Linked DNA regions of Homo sapiens: region 2 is reported to be linked to region 1. Evidence: microRNA targets listed by miRTarBase, many of them from high-throughput screens and not tested one by one. Region 1 holds a microRNA gene; the other region holds the end of a gene's coding sequence.
What was found. The annotated mature microRNA hsa-miR-520g-5p reads UCUAGAGGAAGCACUUUCUGUUU and lies in region 1 at 2,272-2,294, shown strand. An mRNA with a match to its seed (bases 2 to 7 or 8) in the 3' UTR can be bound and repressed. Matches are read on the target gene's strand: a 7mer-m8 pairs with bases 2 to 8, a 7mer-A1 pairs with bases 2 to 7 and ends in A, and an 8mer does both.

Region 2: miRTarBase lists ADH5 as a target of hsa-miR-520g-5p. The part of its 3' UTR that is shown has no 7-base or 8-base seed match.

What each region holds. Positions count from the first base shown.
Region 1 is chr19:53,740,257-53,745,757 of GRCh38, forward strand. MIR520H (microRNA 520h) reads left to right here and starts at 2,256; the gene lies at 2,256-2,343. MIR517C (microRNA 517c) reads left to right here and starts at 1,057; the gene lies at 1,057-1,151. LOC124904765 (a long non-coding RNA gene) reads left to right here. Exons shown (of 6, transcript XR_007067334.1): 2 at 1,889-2,011. It also overlaps the pseudogene RNU6-982P.
Region 2 is chr4:99,068,129-99,073,389 of GRCh38, reverse strand. ADH5 (alcohol dehydrogenase 5 (class III), chi polypeptide) reads left to right here. Exons shown (of 9, transcript NM_000671.4): 8 at 679-817; 9 at 949-2,412. The coding sequence ends at 973. Among named protein-coding and RNA genes, the nearest start is that of ADH5, 18 kb to the left of the region's middle.

The sequences.
Region 1 (5,501 bases):
CAGGTAGAGGTGAAGGGGACCCCAATGTCCCTTGCAGATGGGATGTGTACTGCTCAGCAAGAGCATGGAGGTGGAGTGCATGGGGTTTGAGTTTTCATTGGGGAAATGAAGCTGAAATCTTGGGTGCATGACCAGGTCGTATATGCAACGAGACGGGCGTCTCACTATGCCGCCCAAGCTAAAGTGGGCTTAGATCCTCCTGCCTCTGGCCCTCCCCAGTCCTTAGTAGCTGGGACTACATGTGAATATTAACTCATGTACAGGAAGAGGAAAGTAAGGACTGTTCTTTGATTCATGCCCCACCCCCACTTAAATTTCTATTTCAGATAAACAATGTATTTGAGATGTACTTGAACAACAAATGATTTGCTGTTTAGGTGTGGGCATCTTTTTTTGTTCCTAATTTTAAGTATAGGACAAGGCTGGGTACCACGGCTCACACCTGTGATTCCATCATTTTGGGAGGCCAAGACAGGAGGATCACCTGAGGTCAGTTGTTTGAGACCAGCCTGGCCAACATGGTGAATCCCCATCTCTACTAAAAATACAAAACTTAGCCCAGTGTGGTGGTGGTACACGCCTGTAATCCCAGCTACTCAGGAGGCTGAGGCAGGAGAATCACAGGAAGCCGGGAAGCTGAGCTCTCAGTGAGCTGAGATCGCACCACTGAACTCCAGCCTAGGCAACAGTGAGACTCAATCTCAAAAAAATAAAAAATAGGCCGGGTGCGGTGGCACACGCTTGTAATCCCAGCACTTTGGGAGGTCGAGACGGGTGGATCACCTCAGGTCAGAGTTCAAGAGCAGCCCCGCCATCAAGACAAAACCTCCTCTCTACTAAAAATGCAAAATATAGCTAGGCGTGGTGGTACACACCTGTAGTCTCAGCTACGTGGGAGGCGGCAGCAGGAGAATCTCTTGAACCCGTGAGAAGGAGATTGCAGTGAGCTAAAATCACACCATTGCACTGCAGCCTGGGCGACTCCATCTCAAAAAATAAATACATAAATAAATAAATACATAAATACATAAAAAATAACCCAGAGTACTGGAGCAAGAAGATCTCAGGCAGTGACCCTCTAGATGGAAGCACTGTCTGTTGTCTAAGAAAAGATCGTGCATCCTTTTAGAGTGTTACTGTTTGAGAAAATCAACGTTGAAGATGCTGCTGATCTTGGTAACACATTTGCAGAGCGTGCTTATCATCAGACGTGCATGATGTTGGGGTTCTGTTTGTTTTGTTTTTTTTTTCCAAGACAGTGTCTCTGTTGCCCAGACTAGAGTGGGTGGCACCTCCAACCGAGATCTCTTGGGCTCAAGTGGTCCTCTTTTTATTTTTTGATTTTTTGAGACCCACTCTGGTTTCACTGGGAGTGCAGTAGCAGAATCTCTGTTGACCGGAAACTCCACCTCTCAGGTTCCAGTGTTTCTACCACCTCAGCCTGCCGAATCATTGGGAATTCAGTTGCCTGCCATCAGGTCTTGCTAATTATTATTGTTTTTTTGTTTTTTTTTTTTGAGGCGGAGTTTCGCTCTTGTTGCCCAGGCTGGAGGGCAATAGCGCGATCTCGGCTCACCGCAACCTCGGCCTCCCGGGTTCAAGTGATTCTCCTGCCTCAGCCTCCCAGATAGCTGGAATTACAGGTGCCTACCACCCCACCCAGCTAATTTTTGTGTTTTCAGTAGAGATGGGGTTTCACCATGTTGGGCAGGCTGGTCTCAAACTCCTGACCTCAGGTGATCCACCAGCCTTGGCCTCCCAAAGTACTGGGATTACAGCTGTGAGCCATCACCCCTAATCTCAAATGGTCCTGTAGAGTCAGCCTAGACTGTGGTCTATCTTGGAGGATGTTTGTGTGTGAGACAATGTATATTCTTCAACATTGTAGATTCCATTTTGGATGCTTCCATCGGGACTGTGTGCCCCTGTCCTGGAACTCAGCTGAACACTTGGCTCAAAATCCATTGCTGTTCTCTGGAAATTCTGCCCTAATCTCTTGGTTAAATATAAGGTATGTGTAGTAGGCTTTGCTTTTTCTCTTTGGGGACAAAACTCAGGAGGGTTGCCCCTTGGTGAACAAGGCTAACCTGCTGAGCCTTTGAAGCAAGGAACTGGAGATGGTCCTTTTAGGGGTTTATGTTCTGGATTCCAGAAAATATGCAAACAGGGCCAATAAATGCATCTTTATTTTGTGTGTATTTTAACCTGGTCAAGGAAAATTCCAACAAGAAACCCAGAGTGCTGGAGCAAGAAGATCCCATGCTGTGACCCTCTAGAGGAAGCACTTTCTGTTTGTTGTCTGAGAAAAAACAAAGTGCTTCCCTTTAGAGTTACTGTTTGGGAAAAGCAGTGTTGAAGTTGATGCTGATGTTGGTAATATATTTGCATGCTTATCATCAGACTTGGATGATGTTGGGGTTCTGGGTTTTTTTTGTTTTCTAAGACAGGGTCTCTGTGGCCCAGGCTGGAGTACAGAGGCACTTCCAACCTAGGTCTCTTGGGCTCAAATGGTCCTTTTTGGGACAGAGTCTTGCTCTGTGACTCAGGCTGGAGTGCAGTGGTGCAATCTCAGCTCACTGCACCCTCCACCTCCTGGGTTCAAGTGATTCTCCTGCCTCAGCTTCCTGGGATTACAGGCACCTGACATCATGCCCAGCTAATATTTGTATTTTTCTTTTTTATTCATTCATTTATTTATTTTTTAGGTGGAGTCTTGCTGTTGCCAAGTCTGGAGGGCCATGGCACGATCCCGGCTGACTCCAACCTCTGTCTCTCAGGTTCAAGCAATTCTCCTGCCTCAGCCTCCTGAGTAGCTGGAATTACAGGCGCTTACCACCACGCCTGACTGCTTTTCGAATGTGTGCGTATGTGTGTGTATGTGTGTTAGAGAGAAAGAGAGAGAGAGAGATGGAGTTTCACTCTTGTTGCCCAGGCTGGAGGGCAATGACATGATCTCGGCCCATACAACCTCAGCCTCCTGGGTTCAAGTGATTCTCCTGCCTCAGCCTCCTGAGTAGCTAGGATTACAGGCATGTGCCACCACACCTGGCTAATTTTGTATTTTTAGTAGATATGGGGCTTCCCCATGTTGGTCAGGCTGGTCTCGAACTCCTGACCTCAAATGATTCACCTGCCTCAGTCTCCCAAAGTGCTGGGATTACAGGTGTGAGCCAACATGCCCGGCCTGAATTTTTTTTTTTTTTTTTTTTTTTTCAAGTAAAGACGGGGTTTCACCATGTTGACCAGGCTGGTCTCAAACCTCTGAACTCACGTGAGCTGCTCGCCTCGGCCTCCCAAAGGCATGAGCCATGGTGCGTGGCCATCAACACCTCTTACTTTATCGAAATTTTTCTGGCACTGGTATAGAACCTCACGTGGGGTCAGGTGGAGTTGAAGGGACCTCAGTGTCCCTGCAGATGGGATGAGCAAGAGCACGGAGGTGGAGTGCATGGGGCTTCAGTGTTTATTGGGGAAATGAAGCTGAAATCTTGGGTGCGTGACCAGGAAATAAATGCATGAGACGGGGGTCTCACTATGCCACCCTGGCTAAAGTGGGCTTAGATCCTCCTGCCTCTGCCCCCCGCAGTCCTTGCTAGATGGGACTACATGTGAATATTAACCCATGCACAGACAAGAAGAATGTAAGAACCATTATTTGGTTCACACCGGGCCCTCAGTTAAACTTGTATTTTAGACAAACAATGTATCTGAGATGTCCTTGAACAACAAATGATTTGCTGTTCAGGTGTGGGCATCTTTGTTTTTTCCCTAATTTTAATGATGGGACTAGTCTGGGTACGGTGGCTCCCGCCTGTAATTCCAGCACTTTGGGAGGCTGAGATAGGAGGATCACCTGAGGTCAGTTGTTTGAGACCAGCCTCGCCAACATGATGAAACCTCGTCTGAACTAAAAATATAGATATTAGCCAGACGGGGTGGTGGTGCACCCCTGCAATCCCAGCTACTCAGGAGGCTGAGGCAGGAGAATCACTTGAAGCCAGGAGGCTGAGCTTTCAGTGAGCTGAGATTGAGCCACTGCACTCCAGCCTGGGCAACAGAGTGAGACTCAGTCTCAAAAAAGTAAAAAATAGGCTGGGTGTGGGCCGGGCGCGGTGGCTCACGCCTGTAATCCCAGCACTTTGGGAGGCCGAGGTGGGTGGATCACAAGGTCAGGAGACTGAGACCATCCTGGCTAACACGGTGAAACCCTGTCTCTAGTAAAAATACAAAAAAAAAAAAAAAATTAGCCAGACGTGATGGTGTGCGCCTGTACTCCTAGCTACTCAGAAGGCTGAGGCAGGAGAATGGCCTGAGCCCGGGAGGCGGAGCTTGCAGTTAGCTGAGATCGCACCACTGCACTCCAGCCTGGGTGACAGAGCAAGACTCCGTCTCAAAAAAAAAAAAAAAAAAAAAAAGGCGGGGTGTGGTAGTGCACATCTGTAATCCCAGCATTTCGGGAGGCCAAGACAGGAATTACCTGAGGTCAGGAGTTCAAGACCAACAGGGCCAACATGGCAAAACCTCGTCTCTACTAAAAATACAAAAATTATCTGGGTGCAGTGGTACACATCTGTAATTCCGGCTACCCAGAGGCTGAGGCAGGAGAATAGCTTGAACCCAGGAGGAGGAGATTTCAGTGAGCTGAAATCACACCATTGCACTTCAGCCTGGGCCACAGAGCAAGATTGTGTCTCAAAAATAAATAAATAATAAAAATGACATAAAATCAATAAATAAAAATAAATACATAAATACAGGAACATCATTAATTTGGATGTCACCTTTGTGCAGGGGCCAGGGTAATCTCTGTCATTCCAATTTTTTTTATGTGCACTGCCAAAGCAAGCACTCATGTAGGAATTATCCTTCCTGTGAGCATATAATATATGGAACATTCTTTGAGACAGGGTCTCAAAAATATGATGTGTATTTCATCATATATATAATATAATCGTATACACACAAAATACTGTTTAAATACAGAGAATACCCTGATATCACCTTGGGTATTTTTCTTTGTTTCTGTGTGTGTGTGTGTGTGTGTGTGTGTGTGTGTGTGTGTGTTTGTTTGGTTATTTCTGAGACAAGGTCTGGCTCTATCGCCCAGGCTGGAGTGTAGTGGTGTGATCTCAACTCACTGCAACCTCCGCCCCCCACCTAAACCTGCTGAATTAGTGTCTACAGGCATGCACCAGCACACCTGGCTAACTTTTGTATTTTTTGTACATATGGGGTTACACCATGTTGCCGGGGCTGGCCTCTAACTCCTGAGCTCAGGTGATCCTCCCGCCTCAGCCCCTAAAGTGCTGGGATTAGAGGTGTGAGCCACCGCACCCCAGCCATACTTGTGTATTTCTATTCAAATTTTATTGAGGAGTTTTTACCGCCCAGCCTGTGGTCTATCCTGGAGAATGTTTGTGTGTGCGACAATGTATATTCTTCACCATCGTAGATTCCGTTTTGGATGCTCCCATCGGGACTGTGTGTCCCTGTGCTGGAAC
Region 2 (5,261 bases), not on the chromosome of region 1:
TGGGTAACATGGTGAAACCCCATCTTTACTAAAAATACAAAAAATTAGCTGGGCGTGGTGGCAGGCGCCTGTAGTCCCAGCTACCCGGGAGGCTGAGGCAGGAGAATGGCGTGAACCTGGGAGGCAGAGCTTGCAATGAGCTGAGATCACGCAACTGTACTCCAGCCTAGGCGATAGAGCGAGACTCCGTCTCAAAAACAAACGAACAAACTTAGCATTTAGCTAAAGAGTTCTACTTCATTTTTCAGTTTCATAGTTTTCTGTTCTGATATGCTATCCCTATTTCATTGTTAAATTTAAAACCAAGGAAATAAAGTCCTGTATTAGTTTTTTTCTTCCTTGAATATCATGATTATAGAAATCTTTGCTGATGTGGACCTAAATAAGCTTGTTGTTGAGACTTCCAGAGTTCTGTCCTGGGTAGTTTAAAAGTCTCAATTGGCCAAAACTTTAATGAGGTTTTAGTAAATCTTAATACAGAGGAAGGGAAATTTCAAAAGTATTTACTTCTTCACTGAAAGGTGTTGGTCAAATTCTTCATCTCCATGCTATTTTGGAGTTTCTCATTACTCTTTAACTCATCAAAAAATTCATTCTTTTAAATGCCTTTTGTCCTCAGCTAAGTAACAAGCATACTGCAGAAATTTGTTGAATAAATTAATGTGTGATTTCTTTTAGGATGGAAGAGTGTAGAAAGTGTCCCAAAGTTGGTGTCTGAATATATGTCCAAAAAGATAAAAGTTGATGAATTTGTGACTCACAATCTGTCTTTTGATGAAATCAACAAAGCCTTTGAACTGATGCATTCTGGAAAGAGGTAGGCTTTCTCTTTATATATCATAGAATGTAATAATGATGTTGAGTTTGAGGGGATGGAGAGTCGAAAAACACAATTTTAGTTGTCTTAAAGGTATCATTTAAAACTTAGTATGTTGCTTCCTTTTACAGCATTCGAACTGTTGTAAAGATTTAATTCAAAAGAGAAAAATAATGTCCATCCTGTCGTGATGTGATAGGAGCAGCTTAACAGGCAGGGAGAAGCGCCTCCAACCTCACAGCCTCGTAGAGCTTCACAGCTACTCCAGAAAATAGGGTTATGTGTGTCATTCATGAATCTCTATAATCAAGGACAAGGATAATTCAGTCATGAACCTGTTTTCTGGATGCTCCTCCACATAAATAATTGCTAGTTTATTAAGGAATATTTTAACATAATAAAAGTAATTTCTACATTTGTGTGGAAATTGTCTTGTTTTATGCTGTCATCATTGTCACGGTTTGTCTGCCCATTATCTTCATTCTGCAAGGGAAAGGGAAAGGAAGCAGGGCAGTGGTGGGTGTCTGAAACCTCAGAAACATAACGTTGAACTTTTAAGGGTCTCAGTCCCCGTTGATTAAAGAACAGATCCTAGCCATCAGTGACAAAGTTAATCAGGACCCAAGTCTGCTTCTGTGATATTATCTTGAAGGGAGGTACTGTGCCTTGTTCATACCTGTACCCCAAATTCCTAGGATGGCATCTGCCCTTCAGGGGGCACTAAAATGTATTATTGAAACAGCATTCTGGGCTTAAATAGGTGTATGTATGTGTTGGTTGTGACTGTACTATTTCTAGTATAGTGAACTACATACTGAATATCCAAGTTCTCAGCACCTACTTTTGTCAAATCTTAACATTTTGCCACTTCGAGATCACATTGCCATTCCTCCCCTCCAGAGGTAACAATTATCCACAATTTGATGTTTATCATTCCTGTGTTGTTGTACTTTCACTGTGTATAACCTAAACCATCTACTCTTTAGTACTGTTTTATATATTTTTAAGCCTCATACTTGCTCATTCTACAGCTTTTTTCACTCATTATTGTATAATTATATCTGAAGCTCTCGTTCATTAATTTTAGTCCTGTGTAGCAGAATTCAATTACGGGAACTACCATAATTTATCTGTTCTCCAGTTGAAGGCATGAAGTTGTTGCCAGTTTCTGTATTATAACACTGTAGTGGAACATTCTTCTGCATTGGGCTCACTGCGTGTTACCTAAGACGTATCACAGAATAAACACATTTAGCCTTATAGACATTGCCAAATTGCTCTTCAAAGTAAATGTGAGTTTTTGTGAATTACATGAGTATGGAATGGTGTTTTATTATGACTTTAGTTTGCATTTTCCTCAATTCTCGTTAAATCCTTCATTCTAATGGACATTTTATTGTGAAGAACCTGTTCATATCCTGTGCTCAACTTTGTATTGAATTATTTTTCTCTGAATAATTTTTAGGAGTTCTTTTATTCTAGACATCAATCATTTGTCAGTTTTATATGTTGCAAATATCTTCTAGTCTATCTTGTGACTTTTCTTTTTACTTTATGGTATTTTGTTGAATAAAGTTTTAATGTAGTCACATAAATCTTCCTGGTGGTGGTAAGTAACATTTAGGTTATTTTATCCTGAGAAGTATAAAGAAGCAAACAAAAATGGTCCAGGATCTTACCATCCTGATAATCCTTGACATAAAAATAAATTAATGAATGCAATATACCTAAGGGTTAGAAAATATAAATTGTTAGGAAATTATATAATGAGAAAGAAAAGCTATACACCTGCAAAAAAATGGGTGATTACTGTTAAGTTTCTTACGTATCTTTTTAGGAGTTTCTATGCACACAATAGCATATATATCCTCTAAAATTACACGAAAGGAATACTATCAACACTACTCTGTGAACTTTTTTCTCCACATGATAACATAGAGTTTATATCAGTGCATCACGTTTACCATGCAAATATCTTTTGGTTGGATTGATGCTATGTGCTTTTTCAATTTATTGATATGGTTTAAATGCTCCCACAGAATTGTGTGAGAGAGCAATATGTCATTGATTGAAAAGTGGGAAACAAACTGGTAGTAATGGTCAGGATTTCCCCTTTTCAGAACTTTGGTGCATTTGAAGTGCCTGACAATGTAGTCCAGCTTCCCTCCTGTTTTACCTAGAGGGCTGGAGATATGAGGGCCCAAAGGGGCCACAACTGTTATCTTAAGTGGACTGAAAGGAAGACGAAATTAAAACTAGCTTCTACTCCACTTGTAGGAAATGTGCTTTTAATCTTTGGTGTAGCCCAGCCTTCTAGGAACAAAAGTATCCTATGTTGGCAACTGCAGTAACAAAACAGTTATGGAGAGTATGGAGGAGAGCCAGTAACTCCTAAAGGTCTTGTTCCTTTGACTTTTCTTCTCAAACAAACATGAGATATTCATGAATTGCAATGGCAAACGTTTTTTAGGTTCGCCAATATGAAAATGTAAAGCAGTTTTAAGATGATTAATATTAAAATAGGCCAAGTGCGGTGGCTCACAACTGTAATTCCAGCACTTTGAGAGCCCAAAGTGGGAGGATCACTTGGCCTCCGAAGTTCAAGACCAACCTGGGCAACACAGATGTCATCTCTAGAAAAAAAAAAAATTTTTTTTTTTTAATTGGCCGGGCATGGTGGCATGTGCCTGTGGTCCTAGCTACTAAGGAGGCTGAGTTAGAAAGATGGCTTGATCCCAGGAGGTCGAGACTGCAGTAAGTCATAATCGCAGCACTGCACAGCCTGGGCAACAGAGTGAGACCCTGTCAAATAAATAAATAAAATACTACTCTAATTTTTGTAGCTAGCCTATTATTGAATTTGCTTTTCATTTCTGGCACAGTTAAGTACATACTCTTGAGCCAGCTGATTAAGTTTAGTATTAGCATTTCCTGGCTGAAAGCACAACTATCTCTTTCAGAGATCCAGTATAAAGAATCAGTTTTACAAAATCTGTGCTTGAGCCCGGGAGGTCGAGGCTGCTTTGAGCTGTGATTGCACTACCGCACTCCAGCCTGGGTGGCAGAGTGAAACCCTGTCACAAAAATAATAAAAATAATCAATTTTACAAAATCTTTACTATTAGAATTCCTGGGTCATGAGACTCGGCTATAGTTGTCAAGTCTTTTTTTTTTTTTGAGACAGAGTCTGTGTTGCCCAGGCTGGAGTGAAGTGGCACGATCTCAGCTCACTGCAACCTCTACCTCCCGGGTTAGAGCGATTCTCCTGCCTCAGCCTCCCGAGTAGCTGGGATTACAGGCGCATGCCACCATGCCCGGCTAATTTTTGTATTTTTTGTAGAGACGGGGTTTCACCATGTTCACCAGGCTGGTCTTGAACTCCTGACCTCAGGTGATCCACTCACCTCAGCCTCCCAAAGTGCTGGGATTACAGGCGTGAGCCACTGCGCCTAGCCAAGTCTTTCTTTTTAAGATCATTTTAATACATCGTCTTGAATTGAGGAATTGCTTAACATATGTATGTTATATATGCTAAAAACTGCCAGGCGTGGTGGCTCACACCTGTAATCCCAGCACTTTGGGAGGCCGAGGCAGGTGGATCACTTGAGGTCAGGAGTTTGAAACCAGCCTGGCCAACATGGTGAAACCCTGTCTCTACTAACAAAAATCAGCTGAGTGTGGTGGCGCACAACACCTGTAATCCCAGCTACTCGGGAGGCTTAAAGCCAGGAGGCAGAGGTTGCCGTGAGCCGAGATCGCGCCACTGCACTACAGCCTGACCGACAAAGCAAGACTCAGTCTCAAAAAAAAAAAAAACCAACCAACCATTCACTAAGTGCATGTAAGCAAATCTACCCTGGTTGTCCCAAATTGGGATTCAACCACTTTAGAAGTCTTGTTAGACATTTTTTCAGTGGATACATAATAGTTGTATGTACTTACCGAGCATGTGATATTGATATGTGCATACAATATATAATGATCACATCAGAATAACTGGAATATCCATCACCTCAAACAATGATCATTTCTAAAAGAACATTCCAAAGCTGCTCTTTTAGCTGTTTTGAAATATACAATAAATTATTAATTGTTGGGAAACTTTTGAAAGTTATCTTTAAGCTGCTTTTTTGGACAAGAGGTATATAATTGCAATACAGATGGATATTAACTTCCACTGTATATTTCATTAAAGCTGGTAAAATTTTTTTAAAGGATCTAAAATTTTGCCATGTAAGGAACTTAAGCATCTTTATGTTTAATTGCAAAATTTTTATATTCCCAATATAAAAATTTCTCTTCAAGTATTTCCTGCATTGCCATTTTTAGCATGTTTGGCTATTCTGCTATGTAACCTACCTAGTGATACTCGCTGGAGACAGTCCGTCTACAGGCATGTCTGATAGGCACAAGTTCTTTATTCACACAAAACTAACATATAGAG